7 linked regions of the Homo sapiens genome follow. The protein of the gene in region 1 purifies or fractionates together with the protein of each later gene. This does not show direct contact. Each region holds a gene or a part of one and is shown in the gene's direction. Other genes may lie near its edges.

Region 1 (3,500 bases):
GCGATCTCGGCTTACTGCAACCTCCGCCTCCCAGGTTCAAGTGATTCTCCTGCCTCAGCCTCCCAAGTAGCTGGGGCTACAGGTATGCACCACCAGGCCTGGCTAATTTTTTTTTTTAAGTAGAAATGGGGTTTCACCATATTGGACAAGCTGGTCTCAAACTCCTGACCTCAGGTAACCTGCCCACCTCGGCCTCCCAAAGAGCTTGGTATTACAGGCGTGAGCCACTGCACCTGGCCTTAAATGAGTTATTTATGTAAAAATGCCAGAACAGTGCCTGAAACAATGTGTTGTCTATTATTATTATTATTCAATTTAATAAGCTCTGAGTTTTCACTCACAAATGGATCTAAACCTTTCTTCAAGTTCTATTACGACATCTTTTGGGGTATGATTTTTCATGTGTTGACTACTTGTCTAGTAAAGTTCTTTTATTCAGAAGTAATTCCTTAAAATTTCAAGGAATGCCCTGAATGCTAGTGTTTATTCTAGCTGTCCTTCATGACTTTTGCATTTCAGGAACATACTTACTTTTTCATAATGGTATAGTCTTTTTAGTCTATCCTCAAGACGACTTGCTGGAATTTCATTTATTGCTTCCTTTGTTCTGTGTTCCCCACATTGCTCTGTTTTATGTGGTTGATCTATTGATTGAGACAGGGTCTCACTCTGTCACCAGAGTGCGGTGGTGTGATCATGGCTCACTGCATCCTTGCCCGCCCAGGCTCAGGCAATCCTTTCGTCTCAGCCTCCTGAGTAACCGGGACTACAGGTGTGCACCACCATGCCTGGCTAATGTATTTTTTTTTTTTTTGAGACAGAGTCTCGCTCTGTCGCCCAGGCTGGAGTGCAGTGGTGCGATCTCAACTCACTGCAAGCTCCGCCTCTCGGGTTCGAACCATTCTCCTGCCTCAGCCTCCAGAGTAGCTGGGACTACAGGCACCTGCCACCACGCCCGGCTATTTTTTTTTTATTTCATTTTTAGTAGAGACGATGTTTCACCGTATTAGCCAGGATGGTCTCGATCTCCTGACCTCGTGATCCGCCCACCTCGGCCTCCCAAAGTGCTGGGATTACAGGTGTGAGCCACTGTGCCTGGCCTGGCTAATGTATTTTTAAAACAATTTTTGTAGTGGTGAGTTCCTGGCTGGGCGTGATGGCTCATACCTGTAATCTTAGCACTTTGGGAGGCTGAGTTGGGAGGATCGCTTGAGGCCAGGAGTTTGAGACCAGCCTTTGCAATATAGGGAGACCTCGTTCCTACTGAAAATTAAAAAATTAGCCAGGCATGGTAGTGCTTGCCTGTGGTTCCAGCTACTTTGGAGGCTGAGGTGAGAGCATCACTTGGGCCTGGGAGGTTGAGGCTGCAGTGAGCGGTGATTGTGCCATTGCCCTCCAGCCTGGGTGAGAGAGCAATACCCTGTTTGGGGACGGGGGAAGAGACAGAGAGAGAGAAAGTGCTGAGATTATAAGCATGAGCCACCACGCCCAGCCAGCATGGCTGATCTCTCATTGAAGTCCTTTCTAGTGTGTACACGTTGGAGCCCGTAGGAATGAGAAACGTTATCTCTATTTCCCAACTTTCCTACTAGCTTTTCTTCCTTCGCTGAACAGCAGAGGCATGGTTCAATCTGATTACTTCACAGTTACTGAGTATCGAGTATTATTGCAGAAGGTAGATTTCCTATCTGTGGAGGTTCACTGGGTACAGTAAATTTTGCATTGAGAGGCTACAGAAGCAGGCAGGGAGAAGAGCAGAGTGAAAGAGTGGAAGAGCATGGCTTCGCATCCTGGCAGGTTTTGGTGGAACTTCATCACTCACAACTATTGGACTTATCACTCCACCTTTCTGAGTATGTTTTCTCCTCTGTAAAACGAGAGCAATAATAGTTACCCTTAAAGCTGGGTGTGGTGGTGCATGTCTGTAGTTCCAGCTACTCAGGAGACTGAGGCTGGAGGATTGCTTGAGCCCAGGAGTTGGAGTCTGTAGTGCACGATGATCACATATGTGAATAAACCCCTGTACTCCAGCCTGGGCAACAGAGTGCAACCCTATCACTTAAAAAATAAATAAATAAAATAAAAAATAATTACCCTTTTAGTGTTGACTGAAATCACAGATGTGAAGAGCACCTGCTGCATAGTAAGTGCTCAGAGTTAGTTTTCTTCTCCCAGTCTTTACATGTAGTTTTGAGAGTCTGTTGAACTCTTGAATAACAGCAGGTCAGACAAGGTATTTGCCCTCTCAATGTTTTTTTTTTTTGTTTTGTTTTGTTTTTGAGATGGAGTCTCCCTCTGTTGCCCAGGCTGGAGTACAGTGGCTCAATCTCGGCTCACTGCAACCTCAGCCTCCCAGGTTCAAGCGGTTCTCCTGCTTCACCTGCCTCAGCCTCCTGAGTAGCTGAGACTACAGGTGTGTGCCACTACGCCTGGCTAACTTTTTTTTTTTTTTTTTTTTTTTTGAGACGGAGTCTTGCTCTGTCTCCCGATCTGGAGTACAGTGGCACAATCTCGGCTCACTGCAACCTCTGCCTCCTGGGTTCAAGCGATTCTCCTGTCTCAGCCTCCTGAGTAGCTGGGACTACAGGTGCCCGCCACCATGCCCAGCTAATTTTTTTGTATTTTTAGTAGAGATGGGGTTTTGCCATGTTGGCCAGGCTAGTCTTGAATGCTTGACCTCAGGTGATCCACCTGCCTCGGCCTCCCACAGTGTTGGGATTACAGGTGTGAGCCTGGCACCTGGCCTCAACTTTTTATTTTGAAAAATTTCTCACGTATAGAAAAGTTGAAAGGATAATACTGAGAACTTCTGTAAAATTCCCATAAAAACTTAACCAAGATGCACTGTTCACATTTTGCTGAATTTGCTTTATGTCAGTCTCTCTCTCTCTTTCTCTCTCTCTCTCTCTCTATATATATATTTTTTTTTTTGGAAGGATTTGTGGTAAGTTACAGACATCAAGGATATTTCATCCTAGAATATTTCACCTTATCTCTCATAAGAGTAAGGTTATTCCCCTGTATAACCACAATATCATTATCACACAAGAAATTTAAGTGTTGATAAATAGTATTATTTAAAACAGAATCTGCACTCAAATTTTCACACTTAAAAAAAATCAGAATCTAGTGAAGAAACAGAGATTGCATTGATTTGTCTCTTTAGTCTTTTTTTTTTTTCCTTTCCTTCCTTTTTTTTTTTGTTTGAGACAGAGTCTTGCTCTGTTGCCCAGGCTGGAGTGCAGTGGTGCAATCTTGGCTCACTACAACCTCCGCTTCCTGGGTTCAAGCAATTCTCCTGTCTCAGCTTCCCAAGTAGCTGGAATTACAGGTGCCCGCCACCATGCCTGGCTAATTTTTTTGTATTTTTAATAGAGACAGGGTTTTGCCATGTTGGCCGGGATGGTCTCGAACCCCTGACCTCAAGTGATCCACCCACCTCGGCCTCCCACAGTGCTGGGAGCCACCGCGTCCAGCCTTAAACTTTGTTTGTTTGTTTG
Region 2 (3,045 bases), 8.1 Mb from region 1:
GCTCAGGGAGACTACAGAGGCTGTGACAGTCCCCCACAGGATGGTGGTGGTACAGAGCAGGGGCGGCAGCGAGGGGGTGGAACACACAGGGAAGGTGCATGCAGGGTGCCCCTTGGGCTTGACCTCAGGAACCGGAGGCCTGGCGTTGCCATCCACAGAGATGGAAACGGGGAGCAGGCTTTTCTGGGTGGGGGCGCTGAAAGCTGTCTCGGCAGGGGTGGAATTGGGGTGCTCATCTGAGCATACATGGCGATGTCAGGTAGGTGGCGGACCTGCATGGCTGGCACTCACAAGTAAGGTCCAGGCTGGGCATAAATCGGGTGGTGCCAGCTGTGTGGTTGGTGGAGAGCCATGGGACTGGATCCGAGTGCTTGGGCTGGGGGAGGTGGCGGGGACAGCTAGGGAGAAAGGGGAAAGAGCAGAGACTCTTGGGGAGAAGCCAAGAGAGGGAGGGACACTGGCCAGCCAAGGCCCTGGGAGCCAAGGGCAGCCATTGGCCGGGCCTGTCATGTGCTGCCTGAGCTCACAGTGGGCTTAGCGACAGAAGGTCATGTTGGCCTCAGCCAGCACGGGGTGACAGTGGGCTCAAGGGCGACAAGATGGGGCTGTTGACAGGAGCCAGCAGAGGGTCGGCTGGCAGGGGCGCCGGGAGCCTGTCCCCGCGGCAGCAGTCTCAGGGTCCACATACCCATCCTCTTCCTCGCAGGCTACCAGACCCTGGGGGAGGAGTACGTCAGCATCATCCAGGTGGACCCATCGCGGATACATGTGCCCTCCTCGCTGCGCCGTGGCGTGCTGGTGACACTGCATGCCGTCCTGCCCTACCTGCTGGACAAGGCCCTGCTCCCCCTGGAGCAGGAGCTGCAGGCTGACCCCGACAGTGGGCGACCCTTGCAGGGGAGCCTGGGGCCAGGTGGGCGTGGCTGCTCAGGGGCGCGGCGCTGGATGCGTCACCACACGGCCACCCTGACTGAGCAGCAGAGGAGGGCGCTGCTGCGGGCGGTCTTCGTCCTCAGACAGGGCCTCGCCTGCCTCCAGCGGCTACATGTTGCCTGGTTTTACATCCACGGTGTCTTCTACCACCTGGCCAAGAGGCTCACGGGGATCACGTACGTAAGTAGCAGGCGCTGAGGGCACAGCTGCTTAGGCCGTCCTTGTCACCCCCACTGGACTTGGGTGCATGCACAGAGCTGGCCCTCCAGGCCTCTCAGCCAACAGGGTTCTACATCCAGCATCTGTGTCAAGGCAGGAACCCAAATCCTCTGCTTGGAAAAAAAGCAGATTTTGTTTAATTACACTTGGCTGAAAGATCCAAGGAAGTCCAGACCCTAAGTGTAGAATGAACTCCTGCTGCAGCCCCTCATGGACACCGGGCCCTGCGCTTAGCTCTTTACTGACCGGGGGGCCCCGGGTCACGCCTCACCACAGATCCCTGAACCTGGGCCCGTGACTGCCTATGTCACTGCTGTGGGGAACAAACAGCTTCTCCCAGACAGTGTGGGAGCATGGACTGCAGCCCCGGCCCCAGCCCCTCACCCCTCGCCCCTGCCTGGCCCAGCAGTCTGCCCCATCAGACGGCCGTTCCCACCTTCTCCCCTCCACAGCCGTTGGCACCTCTGCCTATCCTGACCCCCAGCTGATGCCCCTGCTTCCAGATTCAGCAACGAAGCCTCCCCCGTGGTCCCACCACCATGTCCACCTGCCACAGCGTTAGTCCCTGGCCCACCAGAGCCACTACTGCATGAGCTCCTTCCAGAACAGCCCTCTGAGGAACCCCCTTCCTTTTGTCCCTAGAGCTGCACTGGTCCCCTCAGCCCCTACTTGCCAGGCAACCCCGCCTCCACACACACCCTAAACAGGAGGCCACCGTGACCTCGTCGCAGAGCCAATGGTCAGGTCTTCGTCCTCAGCGTACCCAGCCTCACTTGCGTATTTGATGTGGTTTCTTGCCCCGTCCATGTTGGTGAGGGATTTGATGAGCTGCTGTGACAGGGGCATGGAAGTGGGGCTCAAACCAGATGGGAGGCTCCCTCTCTCCTAGGACAGCCAGGAAGTGGCTGGACACCCAGGGCCCATGCTGGCGGTGTGACCTGCCACCTCTGTATGTGGTTCCCGGCCCTGGGCCGAGGCTGTCTGGCTGTCTCCATTTCCCAGCCAGTGGAAAGTGACACGGGAAGCCGAGGGCAGCCAGCTGTCCTTCAGTGGCACGGTCAGAAGCTACCTGTGTCACCAGCAGGAGGGTGGCAGCAGTGTCCCTGGGGCCACGTGCCTTGTTACACTGGGGCTTCGGTCCCTGTAGCAGGGTAGCTGGTGGGCAGCGTCTGCAGCCCCACATTTCCGCTCCCCGCCTCCTTTTCTGAGAGGTGGTCCCTGGACATCCCCACATCCTCACCTGCTCTGCCAGCCTCATAGCTAAGACTCTTTCTGCACTGGTAATGCCAAGGCTGGTCTGGAGCTCAGGCCTCTCCGTCATGCTAGGCTACGAAGCAGGCACCTCAGACTCCCTGAACCTGCCCCCTGGCTTGATCGTTTCTGCCGGGCACTCCCCATGCCAGTGAGAGGCCTGGTTCTAACGTGCTCTGTGCCAACTGAACGTGTGACCCTCCCAGCAGGCGCTGAGGCCAGATCCCCTCAGGGTCCTGATGAGTGTGGCGCCATCTGCCTTACAGCTCCGTGTCCGCAGCCTGCCCGGAGAGGACCTGAGGGCCCGTGTTAGCTACAGGCTGCTGGGGGTCATCTCACTGCTGCACCTGGTGCTGTCCATGGGGCTGCAGCTGTACGGTTTCAGGCAGCGGCAGCGAGCCAGGAAGGAGTGGAGGCTGCACCGCGGCCTGTCTCACCGCAGGTGCGTGCGGGGGCCACACATGGGGGCTGGGGGTGTCCTGGGCACTTCACAAGGACCTGTAAGGTGCACCCACCTTGACGCTCTGCCCCACCTTCCCCAGGGCCTCCTTGGAGGAGAGAGCCGTTTCCAGAAACCCCCTGTGCACCCTGTGCCTGGAGGAGCGCAGGCACCCAACAGCCACGCCCTGCGGCCACCTGTTC
Region 3 (3,500 bases), on another chromosome or scaffold:
TTTGGAGGTCACTGATCTTCACAGCCATCCTGTTGGCTTAATATCTTTAAAATTCTTAGTGAGGCACCACTTTGAGGGTAATGTACTATGAGAGAACAATTGCTCCCTCGTTACCCACCCCTATTGCCTGACTTGCGTACTGCTCTCCCCAGCTCCACAGCTGCTAATAAAATTTAGAAGCAGGATTTGAACCCAGTACCTATTGGGTTTTAAATATCCATACTGATGGCCGGGCACTGTGGCTCACGCCTGTAATCCCAACACTTTGGGAGGCCGAGGCAGGTGAATCATTTGAGGTCAGGAGTTTGAGACCAGCCTGGCCAAAATGGTGAAACCCCATCTGTACTAAAAATACAAAAATTAGCTGGGCATAGTGGCATGCTCCTGTAATCCCAGCTACTCGGGAGACTGAGGCAGGAGAATCACTTGAACCCAGGAGGTGAAGGTTGCAGTGAGCCGAAATCGTGCTTCTGCACTTCAGCCTGGGTGACAGAGCGAGTTCCTGTAAAAACAAAAACAAACAAAAAACAAAAACAAACAAACAAACAAAAAAACATACTGTCACTGAAGCTGAGCAATGGACCAAGAAGGTGGGAGCGGGGGTGGGGGCTGGGGGGAGGTCTGAAGTTTTATGATACTTTGTCACTATTTTAATGAGGCTGGTATATTTGTATCCTTCTGTAAGGAAATGGTTTCTCATAATAACATAAATCCTAAATCCTACAGTCATGAAGATTTTAGTACTGGAAAAAGAATCTTGGGTTGGAAAGGCAGCTGACCAAGTGATTCTGGTGTCTTCTGAGTTTCCCCTTGCCCCTTGGGGTATCTCGTTCTGCCACCCCTTTAGTTGGCTCCCATGTGTGCACCACCGGCTCAGCAGAGGCAGTAACTTCTTTACTTGGTTTCCCTCAGTATGAGTAAAAAAGTTGGTGAGTTAAAAATACTTTTAGGGTTTTAAAAAATTTTTACAGCCTGGCCCATAGGGTGAAACCTGTCTCTACTTAAAATACAAAAATTAGCCAGGCATGGTGGTGGGCGCCTGTAATCCCAGCCACTCGGGAGGCTGAGGCAGGAGAATTGCTTGAGCCTGGGAAGCGGAGGTTGCAGTGAGCCAAGATCATGCCACCACACTCCAGCCTGGGCAATAGAGCGAGACCCTGTCTCAAGAAAAAAGAAAAAAAATTATCTTTTACTTTTGAGATAGGGTCTTGCTCTGTCACCCAGGCTGGAATACAGTGGTGCAATCACGGCTCACTGCAGCCTCAACCTCTGGGGCTCAAGCCATCCTCCCACCTCAGCACTCCCTAGTAGTTGGGACTATAGTCACATGCCAGCAGGCCTAGCTAATTTTTTTTGGCATTTTTTTTTTGTAGAGACAGGGTCTCACTATGTTGCCCAGGCTGGTCTCAAACTCCTGGACTCAAGAGAGCCACCCGCCCTGGCCTCCCAAAGTGCTGGGATTACAGGAGTGAGCCACTGTGCCTGGCCCTAAAAATAATTTATTAAGCACATAAAGCACTCTATGCCAGACACTGTTCAAAGAACTTCATGTTAACTCATTTAATCCTCCCAGTTGTAGCTATAAAGGAGATGCTAGTATAAAAAGTTCAAGAAACTGAGGCAAAGAGCAATTTAGTAACTTTTGGGGATTTGAATCCAGGTAGCCTTTCTAATACCAAGGGAATAAAACAAAATAAATTACATGCAGTTTAAAGCAGTGGCACTTCTGTCATGTTTATCTCTTCATTTCCTAGAGCCAAATCTTTCCCAGGACTTACATAAGTAATGTCCATTCCTTGTCCTGTTTAAAGATAGTACCATCTAGCCTCAAAGAACTGATTATAGAATTGGGTCTGTAATTTGTTTCTGGAAATTGGTGTTCTGAAACTATTTCCCCAACAAAACACCTAGAAATGCTGAATAAAATATAAGAAAAATCTTTTAATGTATAAATGAGTGGTGAGGAAACAAAAATGAAGAGAGAATAGAGAACTAGGGATGATAGCTGGTGCTAACCCTATGGCTACGTTGGAGTTGCTTGATGGTCTTGACAACGAAGATTTAACAGGTGCCTGAGCGCAGGCGATAAGGAGTGAGACCACTGTATAGTGAGGAATTAGAATAAAGACCTCTATATAAAGCCAGGACTTTGAAAACCTAAGCCTTCATTAAAAGGTGGATGTAAAACAAATCAGCCTTCTTGTAAAGAAAGATGACAAGGAAACTTGTCATAGCCTAGGTTCAGGATTGGAGAAAAAAATAATGTCTCTTGAGATGGTGTAATCAAAATTCTGCCTTTTGGAGAGTCTGGGTTTTGAATTCATATTACCTTTACTGGGAAACCCAAGTTGAGAAACTAATAAAGTTGTCCCATGATACCTGGCAAAAACAAACACACAGATACTGCCTTCATGGGAATATCATCAATATAGGCCCATCTATAGATTCCTATAGCTAAAATGCTGCTGATTATGATCACACAATTCAAAATTACATTATATGAGCAGTAGTCAGCAGCAATGACACGGTTCTTAAGTAATAAAAGAGAGAATCTAGGTCTGGGCATGGTGGCTCATGCCTGTAATCCCAGCACTTTGGGAGGCCGACGTGGGTGGATCACCTGAGGTCAGGAGTTCAAGACCAGCCTGGCCAACATGGCGAAGCCCTGTCTCTACTAAAAAATACAAAAATTAGCTGGGTGTGGTGGCGGGTGCCTGTAATCCCAGCTAGTTGGAAGGCTGCGACATGAGAATCACTGGAACCTGGGAGGTGGAGGTTGCAGTGAGCTGAGACTGTGCCACTGCACTCCAGCCTGGGCAACAGAGCAAGACCCTGTCTCAAAAAAAAAAAAAAAAAAAGAGGGAATCTAAAAAGAAATTTAAGAAGGAATCTAAAACATGAGAAAGGAACAAAAGGCTATCGAGAAAAAACAGGTGTATTTGTAAAAGAATCAAAGATATCTACTAACATGAAAAATATATTCATTGACATGAAAAGCCTGATGGGTAGGTTGAAGAGCAGATTAGGTATAGCTGAAGAGAGAAACAGTGAGGTGGAAAAAAAAGCTGGAGAAATTATCCGGAATGAAGCAAAACAGGTAAACATATGGAAAACATGGAAGAAAAGTCATAAGACATGGAGGATGGAATGATGGTTGAATATACATCTGATCAGTATTCCAGAAAAAGAAAGTAGGGAAAAGGAGAGAGAGGCAACACTCAAAGTGATGGTGTCCTAGGATTAATTTTTAAGGATTGATGAAAGATTCAGAGTTAAGCATTCCAAGGAAGATAAATAAAATAAATTTATACCTGAATGTGTCATACTGAAACTGTAAAATACTAAAGACAAAGTGACAGTCTTAAAAGCAATCAGATAGTAAAGGAAATGTTATCTATAAAGTCTTTGCTACAAAAACAGTGGGAGCCATAGACAGCGAAATAATATTTTCCAGGTTCTGAGAAACAAACAAACAAAAAACAACCATCAGTCCTGAATTA
Region 4 (3,500 bases), on another chromosome or scaffold:
TTCCATTCAAGCCACGAAGGGTTTTATGCCCTGGGCTTAGATTATGGTGCTGCAGGGCAGCCTTCTGCCCTTTAGCACAGAGCTTGGTGTTCCCAAGGCCATGAGGGGTTTTAGACCCTGGACCCTGGACATGTTCCAAGACTCTTTTACATTAAGTGAGACATGCAAGCCCTGCTTTAGCTTCTCCCAACAGTTGGTTGATTGGTTTTAATTTTTTTAAACAATTTTAACTTTTATAGGTTCAGCCATTCTTTGGTTGATGGCTTCGCCTTTGGCATCTTGTCAGCCTGATGGCATGATTCCAAATTAATGTCAAACCAGTACTAAGCTACATTATCTGAAATTGTGTGTAGTTATGCCCTTAAGGCAAGAATACTTATCCTGGGACCTATGATCAAGATTTAGGGGATCTAGTAATAACCAAAAAAGTATATCAACATTTGTTTGTATATGCATGTTTTTAGGAATAAGGTCGTGGAAGCTTTCATTAAGTTCTCTTAGTAGTCTGTACCAAAATAAGGTTTAAAATCAATGCCCTAAGGTATTCCTTTTGGCTGCCTTCCTATTTCTCCTGTAGTGCTAGGTAGGTACAGGGCTATAAACCCAAAAGATAAAGCTAAGACCTCATTATCTGGGCATCAGGTAAGGAAGCATTATTGAACACATAGAGCATAAATAAGGATTTACAAAATATGGAATTAACAGTTTACAGACATTTCCCCCAAACTCTGTAAATTTGTAGCTACTGAGTTTAAAGTAACTCTAAAATCATATTTGGAATTCTACAAATTAAAACGTAAGTAGCAAAAAGAGAACATTTATTGTTTTAAATTATAACACAGAGTAATACTTTAAGAGTGGAGTTGCTAGGCCAGGCGCATTGGCTCATGCCTATAAGCACTTTGGGAGGCTGAGGCAGGTGAATCACCTGAGGTGAGGTCAGGAGTTCGAGACCAACCTGGCCAACATGGTGAAACACTGTTTCTACTAAAAATACAAAAATTAGCCGGGAGTGGTGGTGTGTGCCTGTAATTGGGAGGCTGAGGCAAGAGAATCACTTGAACCTGGGAAGCAGAGGTTGCAGTGAACCGAGATTGTGCCATTGCACTCCAGCCTAGGGGACAAGAGCGAAACTTCATCTCAAGAAAAAAAAAAAAAGAGTAGAATTCTGATGTAACCGATGCAGAATATTGAAAAAGGAAAAATGGCTGGCTTGTAAAAAATTTATTGGTACTGATTTGAGGTGGTGATTTGATTGTAAAAGATTATCTGTTCTTTAAACAGAGTAAGGATCAGTCAACTGTAACTTAACAATGTTTTCTCTAAAATCTTCTACTACTTATACTTTAATGCTCTTCTCACAAAATACCCTCTGTTCTAACGTTTAATCACCTAGTTGACCAGTAAAAGATGCTATATTCAGATGACAAACATCAATTGTTATTCCAGTTAATATCTCCCACTTAGGACCTTTGTTTATTGGATCAGGTCCTTGTGAATTTAATTAGTAGATCCCAGTCATCTTTAGATGAATAGATGACACGAGAACTTACATTTCTAAAGCTCATGACTAGACTTTGAATTATGGTGTCTCTGTATTCAGTCAGTCAAATATTTATTGAGTGCATACTGTATGTCAGGGATCCAGCAGTGAACCAGGCACATATTGTCTCTGTCCTCATGGAGCTTGCAGGCTAGCGACCAGGAAGACAAATTAACAAGCAGTTTCCAACAACATAATAAGTACTATGGGTAATCTGTACCCTGGTTTTACTGTGCTCATTCTATAGTAGCTGTTTGGGTGACAGTTGCAATCTTGCCCTCCATAAATGTCCGTCCACTTATGTAACTAACAGCATCTTTTCAGAGTGTATAGGCATCTCAGGACACCTTAGTAAAGATAGAGAGTACAACCATTCTAAATTAGAACTTCATTTTATTTTGGAATCTGTCTGCCAGCCTCTCTAAAGTCATGTTTAACCTAATATGGTTTTCAGTTTCTCTAACAGGGCATCAGTGCGCAAATGCTGTAACAAAATAACAAAATTTAGCAACAACTTTAGCTTTGTATCACGTAAGATAAACTCCAGGGTAAGTTACATGTATCTTTACATTTTTTTTTTTTAAGACCGGATCACTCTATGTTGCCCAGGCTGGCCTTGAACTCCTGGGCTCAAGTGATTCACCCACCTCAACCTCCCTAGTAGCTGAGACTACAAGTGTGCACCACCATGTCTGAGTTGACCTTACCATTTTTCATGGCTCTTATTACAACCCAGGTTCTCTTAACAAATTGAGGTGAAGACGTGTTGTCCACCAAATTGCATCTTTATGCAATTTTATGCAATCCTTACCAAGTTTTCATTTATGAAATTGGTAAATTTGAGAACTCTCACAAAACAAAATCCCCACAACCCTATAATTTGTATGCAGTGAATAATTCCTCTGTATGTACATCGGTAACATGTCCTGATCATATCTTAGAACTGTAGCTTTTATCTATCATGATCAGATACCTGTCATTGATAAGTTTGATTTTAAGTAGTCTCTTAACTTGGACAGTTCCTGAAAATTTTCTTCTTCCTAATGGTGAGGTTCTTAGTACTTGGTGCAAGCTGTTTTTTTCCAAGTATGCCCAAAACACTGAGAATGCACTTGTTTAAAATTCGGAGGATTCTTATATTTCATAGCACACCCTTAAGTCTCTTCTTTTTGCATATGGAGAAACACTGACCCTGCAAGATTTAAGTGACTTGTTCAAGGCCGTACTCAACAGAGTCCAGAGGAAGTGAAATTCCTTCCTGATTTGCTCCAGCCACTGTGTTTCATGACTAGGCAGCATAGTAACGGTGCCTATTATTACCCAGATGACTAAAATTATTGGGAAATAACAAATCCGGCCAGGCGCGGTGGCTCATGCCTATAATCCCAGCACTTTGGGAGGCCAAGGCAGGTGGATCATGAGGTCAAGAGATCAAGACCATCCTGGCCAACATGGTGAAACCCTGTCTCTACTAAAAATACATAAATTAGCTGGGTGTGGTGGCACACGCCTGTAGTCCCAGCTACTTGGGAGGCTGAGGCAGGAGAATCACTTGAACCCGGGAGGCGGAGGTTGCAGTGAGCCGAGATCGCGCCACTGCACTCCAGCCTCGTGACAGAGCAAGACTCCGTCTCAAAAAAAAAAAAAAAAAAATTCACCCAGAGGACTTGATGTGATGTATTTCTGTTGTTTTCATAAATTTCAGATGGTAAGACATTGATTATTTTTGAAGGGGTGGCCTGCCCCTCCACAACCTGTGGGTGTTTCTCGTCATGTGGGACGAGAGACTGAGAAAAGAAATAAGACACAGAGACAAAGTATAGAGAAAGAAAAGTGGGCCCAGGGGACCTGCACCCTGTCTCTGAGTTCCCTCAGTATTTATTGATCATTATCTCTACCATCTTGGAGAGGGGGTTGTGGCAGGACAATAGTGTAATAGTGGGGAGAGGGTCAGCAG
Region 5 (3,500 bases), on another chromosome or scaffold:
CTGACAGCTTGACTGGCAGTCTGGTCTTTTGAATGATCTTGAAGGGGAAAAAGATTTCTTTTGAGTTCTGTGGGATTAAATTTGATCCAAGCTTAGCAAATGTCCATTCTACTAAGTGTATTTTGTATGTTCTACAGTTTTTCTGATGTTTACCATAAATTTACTTATTACCAGCTTGACTTTAGATGGGTTGTTAATCTTCTCAAGCCTTAATTTTTATCTTCTTAAAATGGAGATGATAATACTGTACTTACTGTGTTGTGAGGATTAAATGAAATAAAGAATGTAAAGAAAAGTTGTAGTGCCTTGTACATGATATGTATCACATGGTAGTTCCTCCTATTCCATTGCTAATGGCTCTTTGTTCCTTTGGGGATATTTCCGTGTTCTCTTGTACCATAAAATGTGCAATTAAATGTTTGTTCCAGTTATTTTCAAGTCATTTAGAATTCTTAAGCAATTAGATTCTAAAGCCCATTTTTAAATTATTTATAGAGTATTTAAACATCTAGCTGCTCATACATTTCATGTGTGTCCTGTTCATACTCGCACTAGTGTTTTTCCCATAGTTTGTGCCTATACTCTTAGTACTTGGCCTCTTTAAGGTAGCCCCATCTGTGTGACCTGTGGTACCATCCTAAAGTGTTTATGTTTAACTTTTGGGTCCATTACCGCGTTGTCAGTATAGGACGCTGGTTTAGAGCTGGTTCTGCCCCCTCTGGTCATGGGATTTCACACAAGTCATCTAATCTCTTTGCACCTCAATTTCCTTGTTTTAGAACAGAAGTAATAACAGAAGCTCTTTATTAGTATTATAAGGATTAAATGATTTAATATTTAAATTTGTACTTGGTAATTAGCTATAGTAGTCACTTGTTAGCACTCAGTAACTGGTAGGTGTTAAGTGTTTTCTCTGGTTGTAAACTAACAAGTTCATTGGGATTGTCTTCCTTAGTGGTTTACTGTTACTCTCCATGAATACTGTCTCTGTCTCCTGTGTCCTGCTCTGATTTCTCTATTTTCCTCATGTCCTGTATTGCTCTTTTGCAATTGGAAATAGCTGTTCATTTTTTTCCCTTTCCCTTGCAAGATTTCCTAAAGCAGTTTCTATAAGGATTCTAGATAGGTAGGTAAACTTACAGTTGCTTTTTTTTGTTTCTTTTTTTAGCCAATGAAGAGTATAGTGTAATAAAATGACTTGTCTAGAGTCACACAATCTGTTAGTGAACCTGGGCTAGAATACAGAGCTAATCAGAGGCAGTTTAACTCTGCTTTCCCCAATACTCGCTCCAACATCTGTTCTTTATTTTCACAATAAGCATTCTCAGACTCAGAAGTATCAGGTTTCTGAAAGAAAAAAATATGAGTGCCATGCTGTTATCTTAAAAATATACTTATAAAGCTAGGCCCAAGTATTGGAAATTCTTTTCTAAGGTTTAAAAAAAGTATTTTGTGCTAGTTTTAGATACTTGAATAACTATATTGTGTATGAGATAAGTAAGGCACTCAGTTGATTGTGTAAGACTCAATATAATCTTGAGTTGTGTTGAGTTTCCTCTTCTCCCTAAATGCAAAAAAAAAAAGATATTTTCCCCTCTTCTAGGGCAGGTTACTTACCATTGTCCATATTTTTGAGAAATATGTGCAACTTTGAAGTTTATCTTTCAGATACATTTTAGAAATGTTTTGTCATGTATCCACTACCACTTCAAAAAGAAAAATCCTATTTGGATTTTGATGAGGCAATGTTCATTGAAGTTAAAAGTAATTTAGAGGTCTGTTGGACATAACACAGTTTTAAAATTTCACATATCTTGGCTATACCCAAATGAGCACAACTGGGATTTACAACATCAGGTGTCTATAAACTATTAAAACTTAGTTTATGTATGGTGAAAGAGAGGAACGAGAAAGTAGTGACAAGGCACTTAGCAAGTCTGTGACAGAAGCGGGATTTGAACTTAAGAGTTGTTAGGCCTGTTCACAGTGCCAGAGGTCACAGTGTTCTAATGGGCTTCAGCCATAGCCTTTTTTCTTTTGCCCATATTTGAAACGTGTTCTGGGAATCAGTGTCCAGTTAAATCCCTCTTTGATGCACGTCCCATTTATTAGTATTGATTTCAATACATTGGACAGTAAATCTATCTGACTACACAAAGGAAATAAAATAGTAGGTTATAGGTTCAAAACTTAAGATGTCTAGTCATAGAATTTTATTCATATAACCTCATAATATGAAATGCTAGTTTAACATTTTCAGAAAGAGAAAACAATGAACGTGGTCTCATCCACTTTGATTGCCAGAACATTTAAGATGGTGTGGCAGTGACATTTTCATTCTAAAACTTAGTTTATTATTGTGGAGATGGAAAAGAATAGCCTGGCAGGGGGTGCATGAGTGGGTATGACACAGTAGAGATTACTTGAGAATCACGTTTCTGCTGACAAAGTTTACAGGACTGTAAATTTAAATGCAGAATTTTGTAGACAGTATGCATTGACAAATATGCCTAATGGTAATACCTCTAATACTGAGAGTCTTGGAACAGGTCAATAATAATGTGTATATTGATAGCAGCGATGTAGGAGATGTTACATGGTATTATAGCTAAAATCCATGTTATCCCCTTAATCATAATTACGTTAATATTGACAGGCCCTTGACAATACCCACATTATTATTGATAGATTTCTGTCAATAACATGTTTTTAAAGAAAATATATTCATTCATAATTTGTACTATACTCAATAAAACTATAAAATACATCCTGAAACATTCCTTCTTCCTCAGTGAGATACAGTCATTTGTTTAGTTTTTGGAATGTGATATAGATGGCAAAGTTTTTATTTTGGGATATGAAAAACATAAAAGGAAAGCATGAGTTATTTAAGGGATAAGGTTATATATTGCTGCTCTTAGTAAATAATTTTTAGTTGTCTTTTTCTGTGAAAGAAAAGCAGTGTGACATGTTTAGTGATAAAATGTCAGCAGGAGACCCTTTTAATAGTTTTTAGTACTAGATCATTTTGTCTTAAACATATTTATGTGACAAGTTAATCACACGAACCCTAGTAGATGCTATACTTTTTATCTGGTCTTGATTTTGCCTTAAGCATCTTTTTCACATATCCTTAACATGGTAGAATCCTTCACTAAATGCTAAGATTATTTACTGCCAATTATAATTTTAGTTACATATTTTTATATATCTCTTTGCATAGCCAATAAATATCTCTCTCCCCTCCCCTGGGTTAGCATTTTGGAATCTTAAAGTTAGTATAGGTCGAGAATTGCAGGAGTGGGTGGCTGGTAGGATTGTGTATGAAAAGGTAGAATAGGAAAAATCTATTAGAATTAAATTTAATGGTGGTTCAATTCAAAGCAATTCTTTTTACAAAAAGCAGCTTGTAATTTTTAAAAATATTCAAGTTTGAGCTTACATTTATAAAACTAAATACTAATTTACAATGACCAATAATATAGAAATTGTTAAAGCTT
Region 6 (3,500 bases), about 84 Mb from region 1:
ATTTTATTCACAGTTATAGCCCCAGTGGCTAGAACTGTGGCTGGAATATATAGTAGACACTCATATTTGTTTGACTCTACAACAACAAATGAGATTCTCATTTTTTGGGGGCTGTGGTTACTATTGTTTTAAATAACACATTCTTTTTGCTACAAATGTAAATGTTGTCTTTAGTATATTTATGAGCTCTTTAGGAGCTGGACCACTTATACCCCCTATATGTACAGGTAAAGCAAGTCTCAGAAACTTAAAAAAATGCTATCATCACCTGCTTTTGACAGTTTAATAGAGTGTAAACATTAAAGACAATTTAAGAAAATTAAAAATCATCCATAATGTTATAACCATAATACAAATATTGTTTTATTTTTGTTTCCTTTTATTCTGTATTTATGTGCATTTTTACAGTTATAACGTACATGTTTTGTTATTTTCATTTAAAGCATACCTCTTTCCTATATTTCCCTGTACATGACCTTCATAACTATACTTTTAAAGAAATACGTAAATATTCCTCTGTGTGACAATATCTTAGTTTATTTTCCTGTTAGCTATTGAGGATCTAGACTGTCTCTGGAATTTTTATGGATTATACTGGTGTATTTTTGCAAGTGAACATTTTCATCTCTGCTGAATAACTTCCTTGGAATAAATTGCCAGAAGTAGGATTAATGAATGGAGGCTTATGAATTTCCTTAGTGTTTGTGGAAACTGTGGGCATTCTTAAACTACACAGGTTGATGTATTACTTTTCATGAGTTGTGCCAATTTGCAGTACTATGAATGAATGCTGACTTAATTACCTACTCATCATTAGGGGATATTTAAATTTTTTTCTACTTTACGGATGCAAAATAGTCTTGAAAGATTATTTTAATTTGCACGTATTTTATAATTTGCAAAAATGAACATTTTTTTGTGCAGCTACTTGATCTTTATTATGGAGGTAGTTTGGCATAGTGTTAAAGAATAGTCTTTAGAGTCAGATGTAGGTTCAATTTTTCCTTTGGCCGTTTGTCAGATCTGTGACCTTGGTCAATTTACTTAACCTCTTTGAACCTCAGTAGAACAGGGATAGTAGTATTTACTCACTCACTCAGCAGTTAAGTGAGGATTAATGGAGAAAACGTTTTAACCCAGTGCTCAGTAAATAAAAGGTAGCTCTCATTTCTATGCTTGCTAAAAGAAAACTAAAAGGACAACAAAACATACCTTTGTTAGCTTCTTAAAAACTCCCGAGCCTTCCTAATTTCCTCAGATACACCCATGAAAATCTCCCAAAGGAAGCCTTTTTCAATTGATAGAATCATTTACTTTCAGAGTTGGAAAGTATCTTAAGTTAGTTTTATGTGACATGGTTTTAGGTTTCTGTATTTTTTCAGTTGCTGCTTCCTGAATATGACAGTCTTTATTTCTCCACCTTTTAAAGAGGCATTGCTAAATGGAATTCGGCATTCAAAGTGTCTTCTCACTGGCACACTAGCAGAGAACTGTGACCTACCTTGTCCTAAGCTTTCATTAAAGATCCTAAGATGTTAAGCTTTCATTAAAATAGCATGAAGTTACATTCATTTTTATGACTCTCAAATATTTTTCACTTGTATTTAGCTTTCACAATGGTTTTCCCTTCTTTCCCCCTCCTCACCTTGATGTGTTTGATTTTTTTTTTTTTGAGATGGAGTCCTGCTCTGTCACCCAGGCTGGAGTGCAGTGGTGCAATTTTGGCTTACCGCAACCTCCGACTCCCGGGTTCAAGTGATTATCTTGCCTCACCCTCCCGAGTAGCTGGGATTACAGGCACCCGCCACCACACCCAGCTAATTTTTTTGTATTTTTAGGAGAAATGGGGTTTCGCCATGTTGGCCAGGCTGGTCTTGAACTCCTGACCTCAGGTGATCTGCCTACCTCGGCCTCCCAAAGTGCTGGGATTACAGGTGAGAGCTACCGCGCCCAGCCTGAATTTTTTTTTTTTTTTTTTTTTTTAAACCTGGGTGCAGGTCTTTATACTTATTTTTGGTTGGGCACATTACTTCTTCCCTCTGAAACTTTTTGATCTGCACAATTAATTACTATTCCTTCTGTATGTTTTCCTAACAAACTTAAAAAACTGATTGGACAGGACTGAGTATAGAACAGTATGTTTACACCACTATAATCTTTCTATTAATTGACACCCTTTGGTTATTGTATTGGCTCTCATTTTTAACTTACCAGCATCTTTTCACACATTTCCTTCTGGTAGTAGACCTGGCATTCTGACAGTATCCATAACCTGATGCATACTGGGCCAGAGTCCTCTTTTGGGATGTTTCTGCTGGAGCTGGTGTGGGGAAGGGTCTTTCTTTCCTGTCACAGAGGTGTGAAGGTAGACCCTAGAACTGTATTAGCCTTGGTCTCTTACATGGAAAGGGCAGAAACCCTGATTTTGTTTATCATCAAATGCTTTGTAGCATAGTGAACAAAATTTACAAAAATTTCGTGGTCCCTTTCAAAGAAAAGAATGACCTTAGTCTGACATAGTTTTTTGGTGAATTCATATTTTCTCCTAAAAGTTACCACTTCCTTCTAAGTACCCATGCCATACTGCCCATTTAGATAAGTAAGTTGTAACTTTTTTCCTAGGATCAACATCACACTCATCCATGACCTGATGAATATCACCTTCTAATCTGTTTCAATGTAATATGAACTTGAATTATGAAGGAGAAAGATAGGATCTTCCTACATTTTCTTTGGAATTTTATCTGCTAAATTAAGTAAAATTTTACGGGAAATGGTATTTCACTATGTTGACCAGGCTAGTCTCGAATTTCTGGTCTCCAAGCGATCGCCTGCCTTGTTCTCCCAAAAGTATCAGGATTACAGGCATGAGCCACTGTGCTCGACCCTATTAGTTCTTTTGGAAAGATTTTTATGTAACTGTTGTTTAAAATGGCATTTATATTATTTCTACATAAAATTAGGCATCAGGCCCTTGCTTAAAAACATGGCTTTCATCATAACATTCTTTTTAAGAGTAAGTCACTTTTGTTTTAGGCATCTCTGTCAAGAATATAGCCTTCTATAAAGTTAAGGATAAAATTCTTTGGATAACTGCTATTTATGTAATACAGTGGAACTATTATAAATATTAAGATGGTTTGAAGCCTTCTTAGGTAAAATAGGAGTATGCTAAAAGGTGTTTTGTTTTTTTTTTTATTTTTTATTTTTTTGCCACAAGATTGAGAAATGGAAAAGTGTTTTTTTAAACACACCTTTCTTATCAGTTTGCTAGATTAGCAGGCCCGAGTGAATGCAGTTAAGTTAATAAAGTATAAAATTGAAAATAAAGCTCATCAAAGCATAATCAGCTAGTTTGATATCTGTAAATAGATGTAGCCGTCTCACCACTATAATGGTACTATAATAATTGACATAAAAGTGGATTATATGATTTACTCTATGCTTAAATTATTTGGACTTTAATATTTTATTAATACATTTATTGGCATTAAAAAGCA
Region 7 (3,500 bases), on another chromosome or scaffold:
ATGTTTGTCTAACATAAAGTTACATTCTCTGCTGAGAGGTTTTTTCAAAAAATCACAGAACTTGGAACTACATGTAGAGTATGGTAGAGTGTCCCATGAGAGTAATAACGGACCATAGCAAATGTGTAAGTTTGGAGTACCTTTCTCCGTGTTGTAGTCCAACACTGTGGGACTACATTTTAGTCCAGGTGTATTATAGTGGTCAGTTGAATTTATATAGCATGAATGTTTGCATTAAGCTGTGCTAGTAAGAAGATTGATCCTTGGGGCAGATCAAGGATCCTGTTCTACACATTTTGAGGAAAACTAAAAAAATTTGTGGAGAAGTAAAGCATTTTAGTGATTAATAAAATGTAACAGTTAATAGTGCATCAATAATATGCTCACTAAAAGCCACATAAACAGTGGGTCATTTAAATGTTTTATCAGACTACCTATAACTCCATCTTATTTCTTCATTTCCATTTGGAATGCATGGAGTAATTCAGTAATTCATTGAGTAATTCAGTAATTCATTGAGTAAGACAAATATTATAAACAAAATAACTTTGAATTTCTGAGTCATGTGCAAACTTGGAAACTGTGTTATAAGTTAAAAAATTGTTTGCAATGCCAGTTGCAAACTGCTTCAATAATGTACAATGAGAAGAGACCCTATGGCCTAAGCATAAAGCTGACATCTTCTTAGTGTAACTTGTCTCAGACAATTTAGTGTATCCTCTCTGTAGACTTTTTACTCTTGGGAACGTGGAGAGCACTGAGACTAAGAGTTCGTTTCCTCCTTTCACTGTGGTGTCATCAGCCTGTCCTTCACATGCACATTTTCCCACACTGGACTCTTCAGTCTTCTGTCCTCTTTCTCACCCCTAAGAGCTTGGCACTCATATTGCAGAAGAAATAGTGAATAAGACTGATCTCATTTTACTGAATGTTAAGCTTCACATCTATATCAATGTGAGAAAAAGGTCATAACTTGGGGCATTTAAACCTTACCTTTACCTTTGTCCTCTTCTGTAGAAGTCCCTGGCTTGGCCAGTAGGCTGTTCATTTTGACAGATGAGTGGAAATTACAACCAAGCATAAAGCATCATCAGCCTTAATGCTTAAATAATTTTATGCACTACACTTTAATTAAAATCGATATAATTGATAATAAAAACAAATGTTTCAATATGGTAAAAACGCCATTGATACTAATGTTTAGTAAAGTTTTTTACTGTAACTGGATGTATATTAAATGTATATACTAGACCATTGATTGACAAGGCTATTACAATTATAGTTTAATTTTTTAAACTATAATTTCTATGAGTTAAAATACCAAGTGGTCTTCTTAATAAATTGTCATATGCTTTACTATTTCCACTTATCTTTTTATAAAGCCTTTGCCTTGATTAGAATGCTAATTTACATAAAATTAGTCCTTTCGAATTACTGCTACTACTTCAACTACAATGGTGTGTAGGAGAGCCTATGGTGGGAATGCTGTAGAACAGGGGTTTGGCAAACTGTACAGGGCCAGATAGTACATACTTTAGGCTTAATGCAACATACATTCTCTACAGAAACTATTCAACTCTGCTCTGGCAGTGTGAAAGCAGTCAGAAACGTACATGAACAAAAGAGTATGGCTGTTTCAACAAAACTTTATATACAAAAACAGGCGGCAGTGGATTTGGCCTGCAGGCCATACTTTGCTGACCCCTTTGGTAGAAGATATTAGGATGGTAGTTGGTAAAGGTAGGAAATGGGAGAATCAGAAAACAATCGAGAAAGGTGGTTTTTCAAATTATTTTCAAATAGCTTTCAAATAACATAAGCAGGAGATAAATTATTTCAGATTGCTTTCAGATAACATAAGGAAAGAGCTTTTATAGTGTGAACCAACCCTATGATACATAATTTTTATCTCAGACTACTGAAACATCCTAGAAGCTGCATCAGGATACAGTATTTGAACAGATTAAAGTCTTTATTATAAAGCTGATATAAGTTAGCTATGACCTATGAGCCAAATCCAGCCAAGCACCAGCTTTTGTAAGTTTTATTGGGTGACAGCATGCCCATTGGTTTATGTGTTGTTTATGGCTGCTTTTGCACTACAATGGTAGTATTTCTCAGATTTGTCCATACACCTCACATACATATGTACACACATATACCACAGTCCTCCAGTGTTTAAATCATTTTTAGTGTATAAATTAAAAACTCAATAAGATCCTTAAGATTAGAGCTTTTTCGTAACTCAAAACCAAAGCACTTTTATTGTCAAGTAGAATCTAAATTACAAAAAAAGATTGTTCTATAATATGGCTGACGTCTACTATTAATAATTTGTTGTGCCAAAGTGAATGTGGACCTGTCTGCTACTGTTCATGCTGTTGAGCATTCAGCCTGCATTTTCTGAAGCTGACTTGCTAGTATTTTTTTTTTTATCTACTGTAACTATTCTGAAAGCTTCATTTGTATCATGTGTTTTACATGATTTGGTCTTCATTTGAAAGATTTTCTGCCTCTGTTCTTCTCTCATTAGCACAAGACAGTTAAAGTAATGTTACTTAAAGCCAATAAGAACATAAATATAAACAAATGCCCTAAAATCAGGAACAATAGTAGGTTATATATTTTATCTTCTCAATAATCAAGAGCGTGTTTGAGTTTTCTTTACATTTTCATAGAAATCAAAACACAAAATTTCCCCTCAAATTCTTGGGCCCCTGAAAGTATGTCTGTAAATTCTGGTTTGAGAAACATTGATCTAAACCTATGTTTCATTGAACACCTAGACTGAATACTTGAAACTAAATAACATCAAATTCTCTGATGAGATAATTTAACCATGAATTGATTGAGATTAGGACATGTCTAAACCTCACTTGGATTTTCCGATACTTAAGAAACAGAGATCACTAGGGACAGGTTTACTTCCCATTTCTTTGACACTCTCAGAGGCTGTCAACCTTTTCTATCATGGACCCTTTCACAGACTGGTGAAGCCTATGGACCCCTTCTCAGAACAATATTTATAAGTGCATACAATAAAATACATAATATTATAAAGGAAACCAATCATATATAGTTTTCAAAATTTCTTTTAAAATTAAGTGTATGATATAGCGGTATTGCTTCTTTATTCATGCATTAAATACCAAGATATAATGAGAGTTCTGATAACTTCCACAACTGTCATATGACATGAAAATGCCTATGATTTCTATTGAAGACAAAGTCATACAACCTGCTAATATTATCACAGTTTGTTGCCTACATTCATAATTGAAAGAGATACCAGATTTTGGTTAGAAGTTAAAGAAAATGAAGGTGTAATTTTTTTCTTATCTTCACATTCGCAAATCCCTTGGGGTGTTAATAACCCTTACACTATAGTGTATATGTGTGGTTCATGTATGTGTGTATATGTAAAATATGCACTTACTACACATATTCATACCGTATGTTAGATCTTCTAGAAAGTAATACACCCTTAACCGTGTTATGTC

The links.
Region 2: the proteins of PEX14 (region 1) and PEX10 purify together in Homo sapiens (co-purification; one study listed by BioGRID and IntAct). This does not show direct contact.
Region 3: the proteins of PEX14 (region 1) and EVA1C purify together in Homo sapiens (co-immunoprecipitation; one large-scale study listed by IntAct). This does not show direct contact.
Region 4: the proteins of PEX14 (region 1) and TCP11L1 purify together in Homo sapiens (pull-down; one large-scale study listed by IntAct). This does not show direct contact.
Region 5: the proteins of PEX14 (region 1) and PEX2 purify together in Homo sapiens (co-purification; one study listed by BioGRID and IntAct). This does not show direct contact.
Region 6: the proteins of PEX14 (region 1) and ABCD3 purify together in Homo sapiens (co-purification; one study listed by BioGRID and IntAct). This does not show direct contact.
Region 7: the proteins of PEX14 (region 1) and PEX3 purify together in Homo sapiens (co-purification; one study listed by BioGRID and IntAct). This does not show direct contact.

The regions. Positions count from the first base shown.
Region 1 is NC_000001.11:10,477,950-10,481,449, forward strand, and holds part of PEX14 (peroxisomal membrane protein PEX14), read left to right. Parts: intron 1-3,500. UniProt on the Homo sapiens protein: Component of the PEX13-PEX14 docking complex, a translocon channel that specifically mediates the import of peroxisomal cargo proteins bound to PEX5 receptor.
Region 2 is NC_000001.11:2,406,520-2,409,564, reverse strand, and holds part of PEX10 (peroxisome biogenesis factor 10), read left to right. Parts: intron 1-706; coding exon 707-1,113; intron 1,114-2,609; coding exon of another isoform or gene 2,610-2,669; coding exon 2,670-2,845; intron 2,846-2,945; coding exon 2,946-3,045.
Region 3 is NC_000021.9:32,419,206-32,422,705, forward strand, and holds part of EVA1C (protein eva-1 homolog C isoform 1 precursor), read left to right. Parts: intron 1-617; exon of another isoform or gene 618-3,500. UniProt on the Homo sapiens protein: Binds heparin.
Region 4 is NC_000011.10:33,046,072-33,049,571, forward strand, and holds part of TCP11L1 (T-complex protein 11-like protein 1), read left to right. Parts: intron 1-3,500.
Region 5 is NC_000008.11:76,993,579-76,997,078, reverse strand, and holds part of PEX2 (peroxisome biogenesis factor 2), read left to right. Parts: intron 1-3,500. UniProt on the Homo sapiens protein: E3 ubiquitin-protein ligase component of a retrotranslocation channel required for peroxisome organization by mediating export of the PEX5 receptor from peroxisomes to the cytosol, thereby promoting PEX5 recycling.
Region 6 is NC_000001.11:94,424,889-94,428,388, forward strand, and holds part of ABCD3 (ATP-binding cassette sub-family D member 3), read left to right. Parts: intron 1-3,213; exon of another isoform or gene 3,214-3,500. UniProt on the Homo sapiens protein: Broad substrate specificity ATP-dependent transporter of the ATP-binding cassette (ABC) family that catalyzes the transport of long-chain fatty acids (LCFA)-CoA, dicarboxylic acids-CoA, long-branched-chain fatty acids-CoA and bile acids from the cytosol to the peroxisome lumen for beta-oxydation.
Region 7 is NC_000006.12:143,485,305-143,488,804, forward strand, and holds part of PEX3 (peroxisomal biogenesis factor 3), read left to right. Parts: intron 1-3,500. UniProt on the Homo sapiens protein: Involved in peroxisome biosynthesis and integrity. Assembles membrane vesicles before the matrix proteins are translocated. As a docking factor for PEX19, is necessary for the import of peroxisomal membrane proteins in the peroxisomes.